Linked DNA regions of Homo sapiens. Changing the gene in region 6 together with the main gene of any one other region gives a genetic interaction. Each region holds a gene or a part of one and is shown on either strand. Other genes may lie near its edges. The genes, in order: IGF2BP1, TRAPPC13, RAB2A, SLC30A5, SEC24B, EP300 and NPRL3.

Region 1 (3,500 bases), on a different chromosome or scaffold from region 6:
TTTTTTTTTTTGAGACAGAGTTTTGCTCTGTTGCCCAGGCTGGAGTGCAGTGGTGCGATCTCAGCTCACTGCAACCTCTGCCTCCCGGGTTCAAGCAATTCTCCTGCCTCAGCCTCCCGAGTAGCTGGGATTACAGGCGCGTGCCACCATGCCCAGCTAATTTTTGTATTTTTAGTAGAGACAGGGTTTCACCATGTTGATCAGGCTGGTTACGAACTCCTGACCTCGTGATCCGGCCGCCTCAGCCTCCCAAAGTGCTGGGATTAAAGGCGTGAGCTACCACACCCGGCCTTTTCTCTAATCTTTATATCTGATCAGTGTACTCAGTGGCAAAGAACAGGTCATATTATGTCCTTATCATAGTAAATCTTGTTATTTACTTTGAGTTTGGGGCACTGTGTCTTCTCTTTATATTTGTTTCAAGGGGGACATACGGAATTCAAGCGGAAATGCAGCTTTGGAGCTGTGGGCTGGTAATTCCCACCCCTGCATTTGTGTCATAGGCTGTGTTCTTGTCCCCAACCACTGCTTGCTTATTTATTTATTTTTATTTTATTTTTTGAGGCAGAGTCTCACTGCGTCACCCAGGCTGGAGTGTAGTGGTGTGATCTCAGCTCACTGCAGCCTCCTCCCAGGTTCAAGCAATTCTTGTGCCTCAGCCTCCTTAGTAGCTGGGATTACAGGTGTGCACCACCACACCCAGCTAAATTTTTTGTATTTTTAGTAGAGGCGGGGTTTCACCATGCTGGCCAGGCTGGTCTCAAACTCCTGGCCTCAAGTAACCCACCCGCCTCGGCCTCCAAAAGTGCTGGAATTACAGGCGTGAGCTCCCGTGCCTGGCCACCAACCACCTGTGGATTGAGACACTGCTGGTCTGAGACAGAATCCACAGTAACAGACGGGTCATATTTCTCCAGTCCTTTCATTGCCCTTCCCAAAGTTGTACTTGATTGTCCTTGTTTCAAGAAGAGCAGGTTCTATGCCTTTGACTGAGGAGGGGTAGTGGGGTGGGGAGCCTGAAGTACTGGTATCACTGGGGACAACTAACCAGCCTTGTCCTTGTGGCCCCCAGGATAGACGTGCATAGGAAGGAGAACGCAGGTGCAGCTGAAAAAGCCATCAGTGTGCACTCCACCCCTGAGGGCTGCTCCTCCGCTTGTAAGATGATCTTGGAGATTATGCATAAAGAGGCTAAGGACACCAAAACGTAAGTCTCCAGCTTTTCTTGGATCTTCAGGGTCTGCTAGTCCAGTTGAGCCTCCCCAACTCAACTTTCAAGCTTTTATACAGACATATAAGAAATACAGTCAGCAATTGCACAAAAAGATGTAAACTGAGAAATAAAATCTTTCTTCTTACAGGACTTTGTCACCTAGGCTGGAGTACAGTGGCATGATCTCAGCTCACTGCAACCTCTGCCTCTGGATCTCAAGGGATCCTCCCGCCTCAGCCTTCTGAGTAGCTAGGACAACATGCATGCACCACCACGCCTGCCTAGTTTTTTGTGATTTTTGTAGAGATGGGGTGTCGCCATGTTACCCAGGCTGGTCTTGAACTCCTGGACTCAAGTGACCCACCCAGCTCAGCCTCCCAAAGAGCTGGGATTACAGGCGTGTGCCACCACACCCCATCCCTTCTTATTCCTGTCGTATGACCTCCTAGAAATTCTGTGCACTCACAGGTGTGTGTATATTGTGTCTGCGTGCCTGCATGTACGGATATGTGTGCCTGTGTGTATTCACTTGTGCGTGTATGCACATGTGTTTTAGCTCAGAGAGAATCACACTGAACAGGCTGTTCTATACTTTTTTCATTTTCTGTATCAGCACATATATTAGTACATATGGACAGACCGCATTATTTTTATAGCTGCATAGAATTCCACAGTATAGCTATTCATAGTTCATGTAATCAATCTCCTATTTCTTGATGGGTGTTTAAATTGTTTTAAACTTTTCCTTATCAGAAAACAGTGATGCAAGGAATCTGCTTACACATGTTCCTTTACACACTTGTGCTGTTTAAAATAGCTTTATTGGCTGGGCACGGTGGCTCATGCCTCTAATCCCAGCACTTTGGAGGCTAGGAGTTCTAGACCAGCCTGGGCAACATAGTGAAACCTCACCTCTACAGAAAATAGAAAAATCAGCTGGACGTGGCGGCCTGTGCGTATAGTCCCAGCTACTCGGAAGGCTGAGAAGGGAGGATCGCATGAGCCCAGGAGGTCAAGGCTGTGGTGAGCCTTGATAGTGCCACTGCATTCCAGCCTGGGTGATAGAGTGAGACCCTGTCTCAAAAAATAAAACAAATTGGCTTTATTGATGTTCAATTGATGTATAATAAATCATACATATTTTTAAAGTATGCAGTTTGATAAGTTTTGAGATGTTTTACTTGGAAATGCCAAGTCTGGGGTGGCATGGTGATTGAGTCTTCATGAAGCCCACAATTGAAGGAACTCTTGTCTTCCACTTCTTCCTTTGTCTTCCCAAGGGCTGACGAGGTTCCCCTGAAGATCCTGGCCCATAATAACTTTGTAGGGCGTCTCATTGGCAAGGAAGGACGGAACCTGAAGAAGGTAGAGCAAGATACCGAGACAAAAATCACCATCTCCTCGTAAGGCTCTCTTCTATTTCCCTGTTTATGAGTGGGGGATGCATGGGGGCCAGGGTCAGTATTTCATCATGGAACCTTGATATGTGCTCTTTTAAAATGGGTGCTCCTTCTGCCTCTTGAAGAAAAACAGTCGAAGTGGTAAAGAGCATTTAAAAAATCCCTGTAAGGACTGGATCTGCCCATTCCCACTGCCATATGGGGCAGGGGTGTTGTAAGGTGCTGCCTCTACAGTCCACGTCCAACCACTTCACAGCCCTCTTTCCCTGTGGCTCGTGGACAGCCTGCAGCTAGGAGCCAGGGATTCAGGGCTTTAGGCTTGTCTGTCACTGTGAGAAGTGACCTTGGCCCTTTTCTGTCTGTGGTGGGCTGCTCCTGCAAGCAGTGTGCTTCGTTTCATCAGAGACTAACCTGTGGGCAAAGTAATTGCTCTTGTCCAAAAAGGTATAGGACATGGATTATGTAGAATCAATGGGGAAACTTGGAGGCACAACCATAATCTGAGATTGGATCCATTGCTAACAGAGGAGTTTGAGTTAGGTGTTGGCATCTCCCTCCATCTTACCCCCTGCCCTGGTTACAAACTGGGAACACCAAAGACTGGGGTTGCAGAGTTATTTGCCAGAAGTTGAATAGGCTGCAGAAATGGTGGGCCTGTGACTCAGCTGGCCTCTCGTCTTTGTTACTGCCGGGGCCTGGTCCTGGCCTGCCAGTGAAAGGACACAACTCTGCTCTTTCTGCCAGGTTGCAAGACCTTACCCTTTACAACCCTGAGAGGACCATCACTGTGAAGGGGGCCATCGAGAATTGTTGCAGGGCCGAGCAGGAAATAATGAAGAAAGTTCGGGAGGCCTATGAGAATGATGTGGCTGCCATGAGCGTGAGTG
Region 2 (3,500 bases), on a different chromosome or scaffold from region 6:
GGCAGGGGGTGAGGACTAAAAAACTACCTATTGGGTATTATCCTGATTACATGGGTGACAAAACTATTTGTACACCAAACCCCTGTGGCACACAATTTACCCATATCACAAATCTGCACATGTACCCCTTGAACCTAAAATAAAAGTTAGAAAGAAAAAAAAATTAGTGGGCTTCCATTTTAAGCAACCTCAGCCATCTCAGGCTATGAAGAATCCCTCTGAAGGGAATGTTTACCATGCATTATCAAGCTCCTACCATGACAGGCACTGAGCTTCAAGGTAAACATGTCTATATTCCTAGTTAAGTGCAGTCTTATTTTTCTTAGGGAGCTGGTGTGTTTAATAGTAGTAATGACATGTAAGCTGTGTGAGGGCAAGGTCCATGTCTGTCTCCTTCCCTAGTATATCCTAGCACCTAGTGCAAAGTAGGCATTTAAATATGTTAAACAAACATACATGCTTCTACAAAACTTTTACTGTTTTAATCCCTTTGAGCATTTTTATGAGGTGATGTGTAAAACCAATTACAAGATTATGCTTATGGGGAACCTACAATGACTCCAATCATCAGCCAAGTAATAATTAGCACTAACTATCATTAATACTGAATTATCTGTATTAGAAGAAATAAACAATCATTCAACATTTGATACTTTCCTTCAAAACAGGATACATTATCGTTTTAGGCAAAGTATACATTTTGTATCGTTGTTTGAAAACAGCCTATCAATTGTTATTACATATCTTTGGAAACATCATTATAAATCTAGACTAGTCTCCCACTTTGAACTACATTCATGCCACATAAATAGCACTCCAAAGAGAATTGTTTCGAGTTTTATTTTTTAAAAAATTACACTTGAGGTAAGGAAAAAAATACAGTAAAATTAGATTTTAGAGATTAACCAAAATCCAAACTATACAACTTAATTCATGACTAATTCAATCACAGTTTGTAACAAAAGGAACAGAACATTTTTACCTTCAAATTCAGTGTAAACAATAATTTATCACATTTAAAAGAAGGCTGCCAATAAGCAGAACTCAGCAATTTCTTGACTTAATTGACAAGCCTAGGAATTCTAAAAAGTCATTAAAAATTTTAAAACCTGTAAAAATTATTTTATCTATTTCAATCCATATTCATTTCATTCAGAATATTCTTTTTGACAATCAGTGGAATTCATTACATACTAAAAATAACACCATATTTATGCACAAATAAATTAATTTTTCCAGTAAGAGCTAATCTTCCTTTAAGAAGACTTCCCACATATTCACAATACATAATATCACAGAACACCCATATTTGGCCTAAATGCCTCTGAATTGTAGCATTACAAGATGGAAGTTCATTGTGCCTAATAATTTGATTGAGTTTTGTCCAAATGTCTTCCAGAGTTTGGCTGTTACAAATAGTGTGTTCTATTGTCCATCTTGCTCTATAAAGTGAGTGTAAATTTAGTGCCTTTAAACTATCTTGCAATTTTTTAGACAAAGGAGAAACGTTTTTAGTACAATTATTGCTGGGAAGGGAAATACTCCAAGATCTCCTCTTGTGCTGTTTTCCCTTTTCTGATTGTTTACCCAGATTTCCAGAATTAGTCTGTTCCTTCAGTGTGTGTGACCAGGTTAAATGCTGCTTTTTCAAGCTAGGTTGAAACTCCAATAGATCTACTGTGCAATCATAACTGTGTGACTTAGCATCATGTTCTGAAATGGTTAAGTACTGTTTCACATCTTCAGCTGCCTCTTCAGAAATCACAGGTGGTGATCTTTTAGGTCTGAGTGGAAGCTTGGACCCATCATATGGAAACCAAGGTATAAATCTTGATAGCGGACGAGTAGGAAAGTCTTGAATTGCTTTTTCTGCAATTTTTGGCAGTTGTGTGGGATCACTCTCACATGGTCGATAATGTAATATTACTTCTGTAGTCATTCTGCAGTAATCCAGTTACTCTTAGTGATGAGAAAATTTCTTAGTTGAACTCCTCAGAGCTAGAATGTTAATTTATTATTGCAAGATTGTCTCTCTTGCCAAATCAGAGGGAAACAGGACCTAAAGTAGAAGTATTGCAAAGAATAAGATATGGTAGGGATACCCTGCCTACCAACAGGCAGGGAGAAAAGGAAAAACAAAAAACAAAAACCAATCCCAATGTGGTATTTTACCAAAGTGCTATTGGTAAATGTGAATGTAATCTACAAACCTGAAAATTCTTTCTCTTACCAAAATAAGGGATCTGAACTAGATGCCCTATAAAATCACTTCCTGCCTAAAAACGCTAGTAGTCAACATGTTTAACTCAATAGATATAAAGGACTTGGAAGTATCGATATTAATATATTAAGTAATAATAGTCTTAAAACTTTAGCAGAAACAAAGAGTAAATGAATGATTCTTAAAATATTGTTTTCATATGAATTAACAAAAAATGTAATATTTAAAAATTTGAGGCAACTAAATTGAGGACAATGAAATCACTGTAAATTCTAATCCAACATGGTGAAAACCCATCTCTACTCAAAATACAAAAAAAAATTAGCTGGGTGTGGTGGCGCATGCCTGTAGTCCCAGCTACTAGGGAAGCTGAGGCAGGAGAATAGCTTGAACCTGGGAGCCAGAGGTTGCAGTGAGCCAAGATCATGCCACTCAGCCTGGGCGATAGAGCAAGACTTCATCTCATTAAAAAAAAAAAAAATTCTAATCTGTCTGGAAGAAAATTAATCATTTTATACTTAAAATTATGTAGATTTGCCAGGTGCGGTGGCTCATGCCTGTAATCCCAGAACTTTATGGGGGCCAAGGCGGGCAGATCACGAGGTCAGGAGCTTGAGACCAGCCTGGCCAACATGGTGAAACTCCGGCTCTACTAAAGATACAAAAAATAGCCGGCTGTGGTGGCGTGTGCCTGTAATCCCAGCTACTCAGGAGGCTGAGGGAGGAGAATCGCTTGAACCCGGGAGGTTGAGGTTTGCAGTGAACTGAGATCGCGCCATCGTACTCCCATTGCACTCCAGCCTGGGTGACAGGGCAAGACTCCGTCTCAAAAAAAAAAAAAAAATTATATGGATTCCACCAAACAAATATATAGATAGAATATTTGATGATTTCACGTCATTCTCTGTAGTAAAAACTAAAACCATTAATATGGTTTAACTTTGCTAATATGGTTTAACCAGGCTAAGAACCAGTTTTGTGACACTGTCTTCTCCTCATAATCCAGGCAATTAAACAGTATGGAGACCCCAATACCATGGCTTTTGAATTCCAGTTTGGAAGAGAACAAGAAGTCTAGACTCCTATTTTTTTCTCTTAGAGCACAGAAGTCCTCAAGTTGCCCCAAATTAAGTCACTGATAATAAATTCCAGCATATGGTGCATAGGCTCAAGAATGGAGCCTTCCAATATCTGCAAGTTAGGCTTGCTAATCAGGCCCAAAGCTGTAAGAGCCATAAAACAGACTTTTTCACATCCTAACAACAGCAGAAAAAAATAA
Region 3 (3,500 bases), on a different chromosome or scaffold from region 6:
GTAAAAGTGTTCCTATTTCTCTACATCCTCTCCACCATCTGTTGTTTCCTCACTTTTATTTTTTTTGAGACAGAGTCTCACTCTGTCGCCGAGGCTGGAGTGCAATGGTGTGATCTTGGCTCACTGCAAGCTCCGCCTCCTGGGTTCATGCCATTCTCCTGCCTCAGCCTCCCAAGTAGCTGGGACTACAGGCGCCTGCCACCACGCCTGGCTAATTTTTTATATTTTTAATACAGATGGGGTTTCACCCTGTTAGCCAGGATGGTCTCATCTCCTGACCTTGTGATCCGCCCACCTCAGCCTCCCAAAGTGCTGGGATTACAGGCATGAGCCACCGCGCCCGGCCGTTTCCTCACTTTTTAATGATTGCCATTCTAACTGGCATGAGATGGTATCTCATTGTGGTTTTGATTTGCATTTCTCTAATGACCAGTAATAATGAGTTTTCATATGTTTGTTGGCCGCATAAATGTCTTCTTTTGAAAAGTGTCTGTTCATATCCTTCGCCCACTTTTTGATGGGGTTGTTTTTTTCTTGTAAATTTGTTTAAGTTCTTTGTAGATTCTGGATATTAGCCCTTTTGTCAGATGGATAGATTGCAAAATTTTTCTCCCATTCTGTAGGTTGCCTGTTCACTCTGATGATAGTTTCTTTTGGTGTGCAGAAGTTCTTCAGTTTAATTAGATCCCATTTGTCAATTTTGGCTTTTGTTACCATTGCTTTTGGTGTTTTAGTCATGAAGTCTTTGCCCATGCCTATGTCCTGAATGGTATTGTCTAGGTTTTCTTCCAGGGTTTTTATGGTTTTAGGTCTTATGTTTAAATCTCTAATCCATCTTGAGTTAATTTTTGTATAACGTATAAGGAAGAGACTTCTTCTTTTCTATTGTGTGCATTTAATGATATACATTTCCCTCTCGTAACACTGTTTTAGCTATTTTCCACAAATTGGTATGTTGTATTTTCATTCAGTTCAATGTGTTTTTTGTAATTCAAGACTTGCTCACTGACACACAGAAGCGTACTGTTTAGTTTCCAAGTATTTGTAGATTTTCCTATTTTCTGTTAAACTGATTTCTAGTTTAATTCCATTTTGTTTGGAGAATACATTCCGTATGATTTCAATACTTTAAAATCTATTGAGGTTTATTTTATGGCCCAGGACACGGTCTATCTTGGTATATATTCTGTGAGCACCTAAGGGATGCTGAAGTCTCCAACCGTAATTGTGAATTTCTCTATTTCTCCTCGCAGTCTATCAGTTTTTGCTTCACATATCTGGTACACGCATGTTTAGCACTGTCACATCTTTCTGGAGGGCTGATTCTTTTATCATTATATAATGTCCCACTCTGATAATTTTTTTCTGCCCTTAAGTTTATGTGATATTAATATAGCTACTCCTGTTTTCCTTTGATTAATATTTGTATAACTTTTCCTATCATTTTATTTTCAACCTAACTGTACTGTTGTATTTGGAGTGAGTTTCTTATAAATACCATATAGCTAAGTCATTGTTTTTAAAATTCTCTCTGCTAATCCCTTTTGATTTGTGTATTTTGACCACCAACATTTAGTTATTGATATATGAGGGCTTACATCTGACATTTTACTTTGTTTTCTATTTTCCTTCTCCTGCCTTCCTGTGGGCTAATCAAATCCCTTTATTCCCCATGGCTTATAATATTGTGGAATACACTGATAATCACATCAGACAGTGGTTACTTGTTTATACTTCAAACATCAAACATAATTTGCAAGACTTGAAGAAAAAAGTCTATCATATTTATCCATATTTTTGTTTCTTATGTTTTTTTCTTCCTTTATGGTGTTCTAAGATTCTTTCTTCAATCATTTCACTTCTATTAGAAAACTTCCTTTAGCCATTCTTTTATGCAAATCTGCTACTAATAAATTCTTGGTTTTTCCTTCTCTAAGAATGTCTTGATTGCACCTTCATTGCTAATTCTTTTTTTTCTTTGCTGGGTAAAGAATTCTGGGCTGATAGTTCTTTTCTTTCTGCTCTTGCAAAACACTGTGCTACGTATGTTTATTGTGGCAGTATTCACAATAGCAAAGACTTGGAACCAACCCAAATGTCCATCAATGGTAGACTGGATTAAGAAAATGTGGCACATATACACCATGGAATACTATGCAGCCATAAAAAAGTTGAGTTCATGTCCTTTGCAGAGACATGGATGAAGCTGGAAACCATAATTCTCAGCAAACTATCACAAGGACAGAAAACCAAACACCGCATGTTCTCACTCATAGGTGGGAACTGAACAATGAGAACACTTGGACACAGGGCAGGGAACATCACACACCGGGGCCTGTTGGGGGTTGAAGGGCTGGGGGAGGGATAGCATTAGGAGAAATACCCAATGTAAATGATTACTTGGTGGGTGCAGCAAACCAACATGGCACATATATACCTAGGTAACAAACCTGCTCGTTGTGCACATGTAACCTAGAACTTAAAGTATAATAAAAACAAACAAACAAACAAAAATCACTGTGCTATTTTCTCTGTCCTCCATGGTTTCTGATGAGAAATCTGCTATCATTAGAACTGTTTTTCCCCTATACGTAGGGTGCTATTTTTTGCTGCTTTCAAGATTTTTTTTTCTGTCTTTCACGTTCAGAAATTTGACCATACAGAGGTTCGTCATCATGTGGATTTGTCTGGGTTTAACCTCTTTGGGGCTGTCTTCAATCTGTAGGTTTATATACTTTTTGCCACATTTAAGAAGTTTTCAGCCATTATTTCTTTGAGTATTTTTCAGAGCCATTCCTTTTTCCTCTCCTTCTAGGACTTATGATGCATCATATAACGTCAGCTTTTGTTACAGTCCTATAAGTCCCTGAGGTAGTGTTCATTTGTTTCCTCAATTTTCTCTCTGCAGTTTAGACTAAGTAGTTACTATTGTTCTATCATCCAGTTCACTATTTCTTTCCTTTATCTCCATTCTGCTGTTGAGTCCATTCACTAAGTTTTTTTTTCTAGTGTACAAAGAGCTTTGAAAGAGTTTTAAAATTTCAATTATTGTATTTTTTTTTATTTTAAAATTCCTATTTGGTTCTTTTTTTTATCTTGCATTTCTTTTGCTCAGATTGTTTGTTTGCTAAGACTCTTCTGTTTCAAGCATGTTCCTTGTTTGTTGAGGCATTTTAATGATTGCTGCATTAAAATCTTTGTAAGATAATTCAAACACCACTGTCATTTCACTGTTGGCACCTATTATCTTTTTTTCATTCAATTTAAGATCTTCCTGGTTCTAGGTATGATGAATGATTTTCTATTGAAACATGGGTATTTTAGATACTATGTTATGAGACTCTGGGTCTTATTTAAACCACTGTTTAGTTGGCTTCCTCTCACTCCACTCCAACAAGGGAAATGGTGGTGGTAGGGTGCTACTTCATTACTGCCTGGGGATTGTGGAAGCAGAGCCACAATTTTTTCTGTGATGTTTGGCTACAGTAGAATGGTTACTT
Region 4 (3,500 bases), on a different chromosome or scaffold from region 6:
AAATACAAAAAAAATTAGCCGGGCGTAGTGGCAGGCACCTGTAGTCCCAGCTACTCGGGAGGCTGAAGCAGGAGAATGGTGTGAACCCAGGAGGCGGAGCTTTCAGTGAGCCAAGATCGTGCCACTGCACTCCAGCCTGGGTGACAGAGCAAGACTCTGTCTCAAAAAAAAAAAAAAAAGAGAGTAAAGAAGGACTTTGATGAATATATAACATTTTAACAAATGTATATATTCGTTAAAATGTTATATATTCATATATAACGTATATATATTCATATATAACGTGTATATATATGTGTATATATATATATGTATATATATATGAAGGACCTTCCAGGCATTAATATGATATTTAAAATATTGCTAATTTTCTATTATTAATTACTTAGTAGTATGAAAATTTGGACTTGTTTCCTCATTTATAAAGTTTATACTTTAAAAATATTTGTCCTTTTCCTTTTCTGAAAAATGTTCTATGTTTTTAGGTACGGCCGAATAGAAATTCTGTCTGGATTTATTAATGGACTTTTTCTAATAGTAATAGCGTTTTTTGTGTTTATGGAGTCAGTGGCTAGATTGATTGATCCTCCAGAATTAGACACTCACATGTTAACAGTAAGTCTTTTTATTTTCCTATTTGGATTTCTAGTCATACTTACATAGTTTTTTCTATCCTAAAGTTTAATTGTTTGCAGTTATTGCTCTAAGAAGGTTTTATTTTTTACTTATATCAACATAACTTCCTATCTTGCTGTTTACATTTATACTGCTCCCTCTTAGAAATTCTCTTTTTTTTTTTTTTTTTTTTTGAGACAGAGTCTCTGTTTTCCAGGCTGGAGTGCAGTGGCATGATCTCAGCTCACTGCAGCCTCCACCTCTCAGGCTCAAGCGATTCTCGTGCCTCAGCCTCCTGAGTAGCTGGGATTACAGGCATGTGCCACCACCCCCTGCTAAATTTTGTATATTTTGTATAGATAGAGTTTCGCCATGTTGGCCAGGCTGGTCTCGAACTACTGACCTCAAGCAATCCTCCCACCTTGGCATCCCAAAGTGCTGGGATTACAGGCATGAGCCACTGTGCCCGGCCAGCTATAGCAACTTTTAATGTTCTCCCTGTACCACCAAAGCTTTACATGTGCTGTTTCTTGTAGTTGGCATGTCCTTTCCTTACTTCTGCCCTTCAGCCTCCATCAAGATTTTGCTTATGTGAAATACTTTTTTTCTTTTCTTTTTTTCTTTTTTTTCAAGCAATTCTCCTGTCTCAGCTTCCCGAGTAGCTGGGACTACAGGCGCCTGCCACCACGCCTGCCTAATTTTTGGAAATACTTTCTTTTAATCCCCCTCTTCTCTCCACAAAGTTTGTTAGATTCCTTTTCTCAGTATTCTCATTATGTTTTGTGCATTCTTCTTTTAGCAACATTGAGTTGCAGTTGTTTAATTTGTCATTCTTCCACAATTAAGATATGTAAGTATCTTCAGGACCTGAATTACATATTATTAACTCTTAAGTTCAGTTCTAGCACCTGGCTTGTCGTAGGAAATCAGTTGTTAAATGACAAAAAGCAGCTCTGGCTCTTGCTGGTGGAAGCATACATGAGTAAAATGTTTCTATAATACAGTTTGGAAAAATAGACTTTTTTGGATTTTTTAGTGCCTGTATCCTTTGATATTGACTATTTATCATACATAAACATTCACACAAACATATAGAAGTACATGACTCTGGCCGGGTGCAGTGGCTCACGCCTGTAATCCCAGCACTTTGGGAGGCCGAGGTGGTTGGATCACCTGAGGTCAGGAGTTTGAGACCAGTCTGGTCAACATAGTGAAACCCCATCTCTACTAAAAATACAAAAATTAGCCGGGCATGATGGCGCACACCTGTAATCCCAGCTAGTTGGGAGGCTGAGGCAGGAGAATCACTTCAACCACGAGGCAGAGGCTTCAGTGAGCCCAGGTTGCACCAACTGTACTCCAGCCTGGGTGATAGAGAGACTCTGCCTCAAAAAAAAAAAAAAAAAAAAGTAGTACATGATTCATTGTACCCTTATTTATAATAGTGAAAAAATGGAAACAATTCACTGTCCACCAGTGAAAAAAGTAATTAAATAAATTTGTTATCTATATAATAGAATATTACAGAGCTATTGAAAAGAATGAGATATATCTGTATATACTGGCCTGAAAATATTTACGAGATGTACTAGTGAAAAACAAATTGCAGGCCATGCATGGTGGCGGGCGCCTGTAATCCCAGCTGCTTGGGTGGCTGAGGTAGGAGAATTGCTTGAACCTGGGAGGCAGAGGTTGCAATAAGCCGAGATCATGCCACTGCACTCCAGCCTGGTTGACAGAGCAAAACTCTGTCTCAAAATGAAAAAAAAAAAATTGTAAAATAGTATTATGATTACATTGTTGGTTTTAAAGGGTGTTATGTGTATGTATGTTAGTACACAGATGGAAAATACACCATTTTAAGCGTGACTAACCCTTGGTGGTAGAATTATAGGGGACTTTCATCTTCTACATTTTTATTTTCCTGATAAAATACACAATGATGAAGTATTTTTCAGTAGGGGAGAAGGAGTACTTATGAGATGATGGAGTCTCTGTAAGCAGTACTTGGTTTCATTCAAAGTCATTAACCATCTACCAGCTTATAAAGCCTAATGAAATTTTAAAATCTGGAGTCAAATGGTCCGAATCAGGAAGAAGTAAATAACCTCCCTACACATTTAATAAAGTAAATCTCTTACTACTTTTGAAAAGTAATTAAAAGTATTTGTCCTTCTCATATTTATATTTTCCTTTTATAAAACAAATGGATTGCTTTAAATTGTAGATGTAGGCAAATTAACACCCTGAGCTACTACTATTCAAGATCATTTTGTAAGAGCAGATAATCAAGGATAAGTAACTTTGTTTATCCTTTGGAGTATTATTGTGGCACCATTAAATTAAAGTAATTTCATTCACTTTGTTAAGAAAAAAATGAGAGGCCAGGCATAGTGGCTCATGCCTGTAATCCCATAATCCCAACACTTTTGGAGGCCAAGGTGAGAAGATCGCTTGAGCCCAGGAGTTTGAGGACAGCCTGGGCAACATAGACCCTGTCTCTACCAAAGAAAAAAATTTGTTTTTAATTTAAATAAATGCGAGATTACTATTGTATGTTTCCTTTTTATTATACTTGTTTTACTTTGGAAAATTTTACTGTGTTTAAGACATAATAAGACCATATTTGGAATCTGCTCATTAATAAATTATAATTGTTGGCATATAAACTGTTCAAATTTACCTAGCAATATAAAGATTTCAGGTACAGTGTATACTTGCCCTAGTAAGCAGTACTTTCAAACTCTTCAATAAACAAAACAAAACTTTGCATCATTTATTTATACATAAACCATAAACCAAGTACATACCATTCTTAATTGAAATAAGTCCAAATTCCTCTACTTACCAATTCTGCTTGATATTTGAAAGTTAAAATGTTTCTT
Region 5 (3,291 bases), on a different chromosome or scaffold from region 6:
AGGATATAATCATATATAATTGCTAAGGGAATTTGGAATTTAATGGTATCCCCCTTCATTTGAACATTTCCTCTAGAAGAAACATAAAGCCGCCACACAATACTGGTGACATGCTAATCGTTGTTTATGTTTTATTGACTTACCAAGAAAAATATAGTCAGTTAAAATGTCAGTGACATACTTGTCATTGCACATATTTTATTGACTTATCCAGAAAAATATAAACAGATTTTTCAACAGTTTAAATTTTATTTGTGTAGTTGCTGCTGTTGAGGCTAAGAAATAGAGTGCTGGCAGTTGGGGGTGATGGTAGGAATCATGATTTTGTTCTATTACTGCTGAAGTCTATGAGAAAGGAAAGTTTCCTAATTGTATTTCTTTTACCAGACACATCTTCCAGAGCTAGATACACTTTCATCAGAAAGAGCCAGATCCTTCATAACTTGGCTTAGAGACAGCAGACCATTAAGTCCAATCCTTCACATAGTAAAGTAAGTACTTTTGTAACTTAATTATGAAGTTGTCTTTCCTATGTAGTCTGTGGAATTGCTTGTCTTCAAAGCAAACTTTAAATAGTAGCAAAATATATTCTGATGGTAAAATGTTGTTACTTGATTTAAATCCCCTGTATTCCATTTTCTGACATCTCCATATATTAGTAATTTTTAATTTTCTTTCTTTCTTTATTTAATTTGAGATAGAGTCTCACTCTGTCACTCAGGCTGCAGTGCAGGGGTGCTGCTATCACAGTTCACTGCAGCCTGGACCTCCCATGCTCAAGTAATCCTCCCAACTCAGACTCCCGAGTAGCTGGGACTGCAGGCACTTCCCTCCACACCTGGCTAATTTTTAATTTTTTTTTTTTCTTTTTTTGAGACAAAGTTTCGCTCTTGTCACCCGGGCTGGAGTGCGATGGTGCGATCTCAGCCCACTGCAACCTCTGCGTCCTGGATTCAAGCGATTCGCCTGCCTCAGCCTCCCAAGTAGCTGGGATTACAGGCGCCCACCACCACGCCCAGCTAATTTTTGTATTTTTAGTAGAGACAGGGTTTCACCATGTTGGCCAGGCTGGTCTTGAACTCCTCACCTCAGGTGATCCACCCACCTCGGCCTCTCAAAGTGCTGGGATTACAGGCGTGAGCCACCACGCCCGGCCAATTTTAAAAATTTTTTTTTTTTTTTTAAGCAATGGGGATCTTTCTATCTTGCCCAGGCTGGTCTTAAACTTCTGGGCTCAAGCAGTCCTCCCACCTTAGCCTCTTAAAGTGCTGAGATTACAGGTGTGAGCTGCCAGCCCAGTAATTTTTAAAATATATACTATTTTTAGAAATATGCACTTTTATTTTATTTGTATAAATTTACAGGATACAAGTGTAATTTTATGAGCTAGATTGCAAAGTGGTGAAATCAGGGCTTTTAAATACGTTTAGACAAATGCCCTTTTCTTTCTTCCAGAGATGAGAGTCCTGCCAAAGCAGAATTTTTTCAGCATTTGATTGAAGACCGGACAGAGGCTGCATTTTCTTACTATGAATTTTTGCTTCATGTTCAGCAGCAGATTTGTAAGTGAAGTAGAATAAAATTGAATAAGAAAAAGATCTATAACCTAGGTAAAGCATAATCTGTCAGAGAAGCGCGTGAGAAATTTGAAATGAAGGCATTTGTTAATACAAGATGCAACGCACAGCACTCTGTCTGAGGCTTTGGTAAAAAGTAAAGGGGAAGAAAGAACTTGACAGATCTTTTTCAACTCAAATTAATGGTAACGATGATGCTGTTTCACCAAGTATATTTTGAATTGGTTTCTACACATTTCCAGTAGTATGGCAGTACAGTGCTCTGTTCATTGCAAGCTGGCAAATTTATGTAGCTATGTGGAATGATATGTCATAATGTAAAATTAGATAAATTCTTTTTTCTTATAATTAATATAACATTTCTGGACTTGAACTCTGGCAAGAGATGCCAAAAGGCATTGGTACCGTGTTATTTGTTTATATGAATTACTTTTTAACAAGGAATGTTTCTTATTCATTAAATGAATTCAACATTTTCTCTGTAAAAACAATAGAGTTTCAGTACATGAACTATAGAAAAAAATCTATATATAATGTACATAAATGTTACATTTGTAAAGAAAATGTAAAAATGTAACTATAGCATATGAATTGCTTAAACTGTGCTGCATTGTTGGATGACAACTCTTTTTGTCACAGTTAGAGAATGAGGTTGACTAATGCATATTATGAATTGAGTCCACAAAGGAACACAAAACTCTTTGTAATTCTGTTAAATCTTTTATGTAGATTTATTTATGATCAGCCTACTAATTAAAACTATTTCGCTTGACAGTATGGTTTGGTGATTTTTTGGGGTTTTTGTTTGATTGGTTTTTTGTGGGGATTGGTGGGTTTTTTTACATACAGGATGTATTGAATTTACTAATTGGGGAAGTGCAGTGATACTGCATTTCAGTTAGTAATATATATGAATCAGGCCAGGCGCGGTGGCTCACGCCTGTAATCCCAGCGCTTTGGGAGGCCAAGGTGGGCAGATGACTTGAGGTCAGGTGTTCATGACCTGCCTGACCAACATGATGAAACCCCATCTCTGCTAAAAATACCAAAATTAGCCAGGGGTGCTGGCGGGCACCTGTAATCCCAGCTACTCAGGAGGCTGAAGCAGTAGAATCGCTTGAACCTGGAGGCTGAGGTTGCAGTGAGCTAAGATCACGCCACTGCACTCCAGCCTGGGCAACAGAGTGAGACTCCATCTTAAAAAAAAAAAAAAAGTAATATATATGAATCAATACACTTTCATTAGTCTGTGGACATTACCAAGTACTTATTCTGTTTGTATTCTAAAACAAATGGTGCTACTTTCAAAAATATTCTTAACTAGTAAGTATAATCTTAAATTGTCTTTCTTATTTACATTAGATATTTTTGCCTGCACACTTATAGCAAGAAAATTTTAGTAACACATATCACTATCCCATTTATTTAATTGACTTTAAGATTGCCATCTTGAATTTTGAAAGTGATTTTCTTCTGATCAAGAAACCTCTCATTCACTAACAACTTATTTACTATAAAAAACTCTTAAGGATCCATTAGATTATGGGACATAATTTTATTCTGTACACTATGAAAGTCCCCATCAACAAACTTTGGAAGGAAAAAGACTCTGCCAGGCATGATGGCTCATGCCTATAATCCTAGCACTTTGAGGGACCAAAGCAAGCGGATGGCTTGAGCCCAGAGGTTCGAGACCAGCCTGGGCAACATGGGG
Region 6 (3,500 bases):
TCTTGCTCTGTTGCCCAAGCTGGAGTACAGTGGCGTGATCTCGGCCTATGACAACCTCCGTCTCCCGGCTTCAAGCGATTCTCCTGCTCAGCCTCCGGAGTAGCTAGGACTACAGCTGCGCAGCACCATGCCCGGCTAATTTTTGTATTTTTAGTAGAGACAGGGAGTCCTGACCTCGTGATCCACCCACCTCGGCCTCCCAAAATGTTGGGATTACAGGCATGAGCCACCGCGCCCGGCCTGTTTTTGTTTTTCGTGGATATACAGTAGTCCCCCCTTATCCTTGCGGGATACATTCCAAGATCTCCAGTGGATACCTGAAACCCTGTATAGTAGTGAATATAATTGTCATCAGTCAGAACACGTTTCTGTCCGTGTCTTCCACACACAAATTTAATGCCTTTTCCATCTTAACTAATCACTTGTCATGCACTGTGGCTGTGATGTTTGCAGTTTGAGGTACAACAGCAAAACTATCACGAATTTTTTTCCTTCACAATTTCATGTATAGATTTGATCTTTGTAACCTCCGCATACAATTTTTTTTCATTCCTTATTAAGTCAAGAACTTTCACCTTCAAGCAATTTACAGCTTCTCTTTGGCATATCCATATAGCTGTCATTGCTACTTTTGGACTTAGGGACTGTCATTAAGTAAAATAAGGGTTACTTAAAACTCAAGCATTGCCCTGCCCCATAGTCAGTCTGACAATCTGATAACTGAGATGGCTACTAAGTGACAAATGGCTGGTAGTTTATACAGGTGAATACATTAGACGGAGGGGAGATTCACTACCCGGTCAGGTGAGATTTCATCAGGCTACTCAGAATGGCGCACAGTTTAAAACATTGTTGTGGCTCACGCCTGTAATCCTGGCACTTTGGGAGATTGAGGCAGGAGGATTGCTTGAGGCCAGGCATTCAAGACCAGCCTGGGCAATGTAGTGGGACCCCCCATCCCCCCACCATCTCTAGAAAAAAAATTTAAAAAGTCAGCAAGGCATGGTGGCATGCATCTGTAGTCCTAGCTTCTTGGGAGGCTTAAGGTGTGAGGATCTCTTGAGCCCAGGAGTTTTGAGGTTACAGTGAGCTATGATGACACCACTGTACACTCCAGCCTAGGTGACATAGCAAGACTCTGTTTCTAAAACAACAAAAATTAGTGTTTATTTCTGCAGTTTTCTTTGTAATATTTTTGTACCACAGGTGTTTGAAATGGCAGAAAATGAAACGGGGTAAGGATGAACTCCTGTATAGATAGACTGGATAAAGAGAAAGCCAAGTGCATGATGTTCATAGAGGAGTCTTAAGAGTAAGCCTTATGTCATCTATCCAAATGTTGTTTTCTAGGAGTATAAGAATATAGGAACAGAGCTTAAAATGGAAAAATACTGTACAGTTAGCCTTCCGTATCTGAGGGTTCCGTGTTTGTGGAGTCAGCCACAGATTGAAAATATTTAGGGGAAAAAAATCCATGGTTGCATCTGTACTGGACATGTACAGACTTTATTTTCTTGTCATTATTCCCTAAACAATACAGTGCACCAACTATTTATGTTGCATTTACACTGCATTAGGTATTGTAAATAATCCAGAAAGAATTCAAAGTATATGGGTGGGTGTGTGTAGGTTATATGCAAATACTACATGTCCCCTTTATATCAGGGACTGGAGCATCCTCAGATTTTGGTATCTGCAGTGGAGGGAGTGGATTCTGGAACCAATTCCCAGCAGATACCAAGGGACAACCATATATATATAGTATCATGACATCTTGTATCATGTCACGTATATATATATCATATATATTATCATGTCACGTATACAAGACATCTTATATATCCTATCATGTAAGATGTCTTGTATACGTAAGTAATAGAAATGAAAATCAGCAGATAGTTAAGGCATAATGAGAAAATGGAAAACATTGTTCTTGTTAGAAATGTTTAAGAATGGCTTCTTGATAAAGAACTGTGTTAAGCATATTCTTTCTTCTTTTTAGACACAGAGTCTCACTCTGTTTCCTAGACAGGAGTGCAGTGGTGCAATCCTGGCTCACTGTAGCCTCCATCTCCTGGGTTCAAGCTATTCTCCTGCCTCAACCTCCCAAGTAGCTGGGATTACAGGCACCTGCTACCATGCCTGGCTAATGTTTGTATTTTTAGTAGAGATAGGGTTTCACCGTGTTGGCCAGGCTGGTCTCGAACTCCTGACCTCAGTCTGCCCACCTCGGCCTCCCAAAGTGCTGGTATTAGAGGCGAGAGCCACAGTGCCTGGCCAATTAAGCATAATTTTTTCTATTTTTCATTTTCTTACATGGATCTTTTTTTTTTTTTTTGAGACGGAGTCTAGCTCTGTCACCCAGGCTAGAGTGCAGTGACACGATCTCGGCTCACTGCCAGCTCCGCCTCCTGGGTTCATGCCATTCTCCTGCCTCAGCCTCCCTAGTGGCTGGGACTACAGGCACCCGCCACCATGCCCGGCTAATTTTTTGTATTTTTAGTAGAGATGGGGTTTCACCATGTTAGGCAGGATGGTCTCGATCTGCTGACTTCATAATCTACCCTTCTCGGCCTCCCAAAGTGCTGGGATTACAGGGGTAAGCCACCGTGCCCAGCCACCTGGGTCTTAAAGAATAAATTTTCTTGAGATGGAGTCTTGCTGTGTTGCCCAGGCTGAAGTTATCCTCCTGCTTCGGCCTCCTGAGTAGCTGGGATTGCAGATGTGAGCCACTATGCCTGCCTCTAAGAAACTTTCTTATAAAGGAGGAAGAAGAAAAGTAGCAGTGCAGTGCTCCAAAGAATTTTTTTACAACACTTAAGGAAGAACTACCTTTAACTTGTAGCACTAGAGACTCTGTTTCAAAGAATGCACAAGAATACTTACCCTTATTACTTGTAATATACTCTCATATTTTCTGTTGCTTTTTTTTCTTTTCTTTTTTTTTTTTTTTTTAGTACTGGTTGCAGCCTACTATATTGATTTTTATGACCCACTGTTGGCTTTTGAGCCATAATTTGAAGAATACTGGCGTAGAAGAGTTGACAAGATGGCAGTTATTCTGTATTAGGCCAACATTTTCTGTATGCCAGGAACTTATCCTCTGTACATTGTTCCTTCTTTCCTTCCTGGAGTTTATAGATAAGGGAAGAAGACTGGCATTCACGGAGTCTGGTGTGATCAGCATTGTATTTGGGAAGTACGTATATAGTGGGAGGAACAGGAGAACCTAACCCAGTAGTTATCCTGGTGGCTGTCTTTGAGGAATTGTGTCTGATTTTGGGATCTCACAGATAGAGATAGGATTAGTAAAAATGAGCCCAGGCTAGAAAGGAGACTGTGTGAGGCCAGGTATATCCTGTTCTGGGAACCTGTGAGTGCTGTCTGACTGGTAGAATAGCCAAAAACTTGACTGTAGAGGTGAGCAAGGGGGCCAATCATGGAGGGCTTATAATACAGGAATTTAGACTTTCCATTTTACCCATTTAATGGATGGGGCA
Region 7 (3,500 bases), on a different chromosome or scaffold from region 6:
ACCCCAGCAGCCTTCCGCCCTCCGCCTGGGCTCAGGGGAGCAGAGCCTGGAAGACGGCAATGACAGGGTCCTCGTGGGTGGTCACCACCAGCACGCTGCGGAACTTGTCAAACAGCATGAGCAGCTGGGAGCGCCGCGTGTTCTCGTTGTACATAATCTCCTCCAGGTGGTGGCGGCCGCGGAAGTAGTGAAGGAGCCTGGAAGGGATGGGTGGGTGTGAGCCCAACCTGACACCAGCCCCCAGAGGCCTCTGCTGAAGAGCCACTGCTGGGAATCAGCTCTGAGCTGCCCACAGGCCTGAACAGAGCTGGTGGTGAAGGCCAGGGAGGCAGCCACCACAGCCCCCCAACAAGGGTGGGCAGGCCTCCTGGACCCCATGCCCACCACGGTCCCGCTGACCACCAGGTGGGCGGAGTGGGTTCAGGACGGCAGACGGCTGTTCAAACCCAGAGGTGCCCAAGCCTGCGTCCTGATGTTGGGACCAGGGTTCTGCTGGTGGCTTCTTTTTCGTGCTACAGTGAGTCCCACGTAGCTCTGGAGCCAAATGGTCACTGCTTTTTTTTTTCCTTTTTTTGAGAGACGGAGTCTCACTCAGTCACCCAGGCTAGATTGCAGTGGCTCGATCTCAGCTCACTGCAACCTCCCGCCTCCCAGATTCAAGCGATTCTCCTGCGTCAGCTTCCCAGGTAAGCTGGGACTACAGGAGTGCGCTACCACACCTGGCTAATTTCTCTCTTTTTTAGTAGAGACAGGGTTTCATTATATGTTGGCCAGGCTGGTCTCGAACTCCTGAACTCAGGTGATCCACCCACCTCAGCCTCCCAAAGTGCTGAGATTATAACCGTGAGCCACTGTGCCCAGCCTGCTTTTTTTTTTTTGAGACGGAGTCTCGCTCTGCTGCCCAGGCTGGAGGTGCAGTGGCGCGATCTGGGCTCACTGCAACTCCCGCCTTCCCGCCATTCTCCTCCTCCCGCCAAGCTCCGCCTCCCGCCTTCAGGCCATTCTCCTGCCTCAGCCTCCCCAGTAGCTGGGACTACAGGCGCCCGCCACCACACCCAGCTAATTTTTTGTATTTTTTAGTAGAGACGGGGTTTCACCATGTTAGCCAGGATGATCTCGATCTCCTGACCTCGTGATCCACCCACCTCAGCCTCCCAAAGTGCTGGGATTACAGGCATGAGCCACCGCGCCTGACTTTTTTTTTTTTTTTTTTTAATGTCACCATCATTTGGAAGGTCACTGCTTTAGGGTGCTTTCTGCAACTCAGGCTGGCACAGAGGAGGCTAGGATGCAGGTGAGACCTGGACCAGCTGCTCAGAAGAGTTGCAAGTGGTTCTCTCGAGGGCCGAGTGTGGTTCTCAACCGGAAACTCAGTCCCTGACAACCCGACCACTCCCGGGAAACTATGCCCCTGCACTGTCCCCCAAGTCAGGGTGGGGCTGACAGAGACCACTGAGCCACATCACCTTTAACATGGGGGACCCTGGATGCCCGCAGGGCTTACAGTCCTGGGCAAACCCCTGCCAAGTCCCATGAGGGTGAGAACTTGGCACTTAAATTAGCCGGGCGTGGTGGCGGGCGCCTGTAGTCCCAGCTACTCAGGAGGCTGAGGCAGGAGAATGGCGTGAACCCGGGAAGCGGAGCTTGCAGTGAGCCGAGATTGCGCCACTGCAGTCCGCAGTCCGGCCTGGGTGACAGAGCGAGACTCCGTCTCAAAAAAAAAAAAAAAAAAAAAGAACTTGGCACTGCCTCTCAAGGGAAAAGGAACATCTAAGAAGTACTGGAGAGAGAAGAGTCCGAAAAATAGGCATGCCAGGCCCATGGCCCGGCGTCTTGGTGACAAGCCGAACCCTCAGGCCTGGGCAGTGGCACCTGCCCCTACACACCTGAATGCAGAGACTCCATCTCGAACAGGGCCCCATCTGTTCTCAGTGGATTTGGTGGTTCTGTTGCGTACGTCCCTATCCACTTTCTGCCCTGACCCTGCAACTGGCCCCAGTCCCAACGGGTCAACCTACACCCACCTGGCAAACATGCGGAGGTCCTCAGGGTTCTGGGCTGCGGGTACACTGAGGATGGCTGCGCGTTCATGCTCCGACAGGCTGGCCAGCAGGTTCTCCGTCATCCTCTGGTTCAGTGGCGAGTCCCCGCTGGGAAGTAGCTCTGCGCTGGAGTTGTCCATGCTGGGGCTGGTGAGGGTCATGTCATCGCTGCTGGCTGTGGGGGACATGGGTCAGGGTGACCAAGTGGAATTCCAGGACACCCAGGGGAACAGCGAGGGCAGAGCCAGCAGCCAGCCTCCAATGACACCCCTAACTCCTACAAGGGTTAGGGTACATCTGCCTGCAAGCATTCGCTGCTGCCCCACCTCCTGGGTGTGACACGCCCCTCATACGGCTGACTTGGGAAACGGGTAGCCTCCCCTCTGGGGGCAACCTCAAGGGACCTGAACAGAGGTGCGATGTGTGCCCCACAAACACCCCAAGGTGGGCCTGGGCATCCTGTCCCTCACCCAGGATGGAGGACAAAGCACCCTGGGCAGGTGGGGTCCTCACATGAAGCATGAAGCCTACAGCCAGACCTCAGCCAAGGGGGGACTTTCAAAGTCTTCCACCCCCTTCCTTCCCCAAGCCTGGGGACCGGGGACCTGGGACCTGGCAACAGGCTGCTGCCCTCAAGCCACACTGGCCATGACGGCTCTTCTGGGGCGCAGAGGTGTCAGCTGTCCTGGTAGTGGTATGAGATCCTGCTCTGCTCCCAGGCTGGGGCAGAGATTCCAGCACTGATTTGCTGGGCTGGGAGCTGCCCCTAATTCTAGCAAGCCTGCTGAAGAGCCCGGAGACAGAGCTGCCACCTCAGAGTCACGGTGGTGCTAGGAGACAGGAGAGGTGTCTCCACGGGGGACACGAGGCACGTGCATGTGCGTGTGCAGCTGTGTGGAGGCCCCTCATCACTCACAGCACCACCCACGTTGAGCCTCCTGGATGCCACCCCCAAGCGTCTCCCCTGACTACCACAGCGGTGCCCTGGGGGTCCTACTTGGGGAGCCAAAGCTGAGGGCGTTGGGCGTGCTGAGGCTGCGACCGCCGACCCGGGCAGTGAAGGGGACGTCGTCCTCTCGCGGACGGGGCTCCTCCTCGCTGGGTGAGGCCATCAGGCAGACATAGGTGTGCAGCTGGATGAGAAGCCGGCGCTGCAGCATCCACACCACCATCTGGATGAGCTGGGTCTGCGGGTGGCAGCAGGTGAGGCTGGTCCCCCTCCCCACTCCAACTTCCTCCTGGGTGATCAGGGAGCCATGGCCCTAGACATGGCCACAGCACGCTCCCTGTGCTGACGCACAGGCAGAAAGGCCCTCTTCTCAGAAAGGGAGCCCCCAGCTGCCAGCCAGCTCTGCAAGGCCCGCTCACCCTCCTGGGAAGGGAGAGGGGCCAGGGGAACATCTGGATCACACCTGCACAGGCTCCCACCACACACCGGGGCCACCCAGCATCTGGCTG

The links.
Region 1: changes in EP300 (region 6) and IGF2BP1 together harm fitness less than expected from each alone (positive genetic interaction), as found in Homo sapiens cells (one large-scale study listed by BioGRID).
Region 2: changes in EP300 (region 6) and TRAPPC13 together harm fitness more than expected from each alone (negative genetic interaction), as found in Homo sapiens cells (one large-scale study listed by BioGRID).
Region 3: changes in EP300 (region 6) and RAB2A together harm fitness less than expected from each alone (positive genetic interaction), as found in Homo sapiens cells (one large-scale study listed by BioGRID).
Region 4: changes in EP300 (region 6) and SLC30A5 together harm fitness less than expected from each alone (positive genetic interaction), as found in Homo sapiens cells (one large-scale study listed by BioGRID).
Region 5: changes in EP300 (region 6) and SEC24B together harm fitness less than expected from each alone (positive genetic interaction), as found in Homo sapiens cells (one large-scale study listed by BioGRID).
Region 7: changes in EP300 (region 6) and NPRL3 together harm fitness more than expected from each alone (negative genetic interaction), as found in Homo sapiens cells (one large-scale study listed by BioGRID).

The regions. Positions count from the first base shown.
Region 1 is NC_000017.11:49,038,885-49,042,384, forward strand, and holds part of IGF2BP1 (insulin-like growth factor 2 mRNA-binding protein 1), read left to right. Parts: intron 1-1,072; coding exon 1,073-1,207; intron 1,208-2,493; coding exon 2,494-2,616; intron 2,617-3,357; coding exon 3,358-3,493; intron 3,494-3,500. UniProt on the Homo sapiens protein: RNA-binding factor that recruits target transcripts to cytoplasmic protein-RNA complexes (mRNPs). This transcript 'caging' into mRNPs allows mRNA transport and transient storage.
Region 2 is NC_000005.10:65,628,027-65,631,526, reverse strand, and holds part of TRAPPC13 (trafficking protein particle complex subunit 13), read right to left. Parts: intron 2,060-3,500; exon of another isoform or gene 1,940-2,059; coding exon of another isoform or gene 1,187-1,939; exon of another isoform or gene 599-1,186; intron 1-598. Other genes in the region: SHLD3 (shieldin complex subunit 3), read right to left, coding at 1,187-1,939.
Region 3 is NC_000008.11:60,593,487-60,596,986, reverse strand, and holds part of RAB2A (ras-related protein Rab-2A), read right to left. Parts: intron 1-3,500.
Region 4 is NC_000005.10:69,118,014-69,121,513, forward strand, and holds part of SLC30A5 (proton-coupled zinc antiporter SLC30A5), read left to right. Parts: intron 1-485; coding exon 486-615; intron 616-3,500. UniProt on the Homo sapiens protein: Together with SLC30A6 forms a functional proton-coupled zinc ion antiporter mediating zinc entry into the lumen of organelles along the secretory pathway.
Region 5 is NC_000004.12:109,538,106-109,541,396, forward strand, and holds the end of SEC24B (protein transport protein Sec24B), read left to right. Parts: intron 1-387; coding exon 388-491; intron 492-1,455; coding exon 1,456-1,570; 3' UTR 1,571-2,791; downstream 2,792-3,291. UniProt on the Homo sapiens protein: Component of the coat protein complex II (COPII) which promotes the formation of transport vesicles from the endoplasmic reticulum (ER).
Region 6 is NC_000022.11:41,099,092-41,102,591, forward strand, and holds part of EP300 (histone acetyltransferase p300), read left to right. Parts: intron 1-3,500. UniProt on the Homo sapiens protein: Functions as a histone acetyltransferase and regulates transcription via chromatin remodeling. Acetylates all four core histones in nucleosomes. Histone acetylation gives an epigenetic tag for transcriptional activation.
Region 7 is NC_000016.10:86,674-90,173, forward strand, and holds part of NPRL3 (GATOR1 complex protein NPRL3), read right to left. Parts: intron 3,230-3,500; coding exon 3,040-3,229; intron 2,218-3,039; coding exon 2,025-2,217; intron 198-2,024; coding exon 32-197; 3' UTR 1-31. UniProt on the Homo sapiens protein: As a component of the GATOR1 complex functions as an inhibitor of the amino acid-sensing branch of the mTORC1 pathway.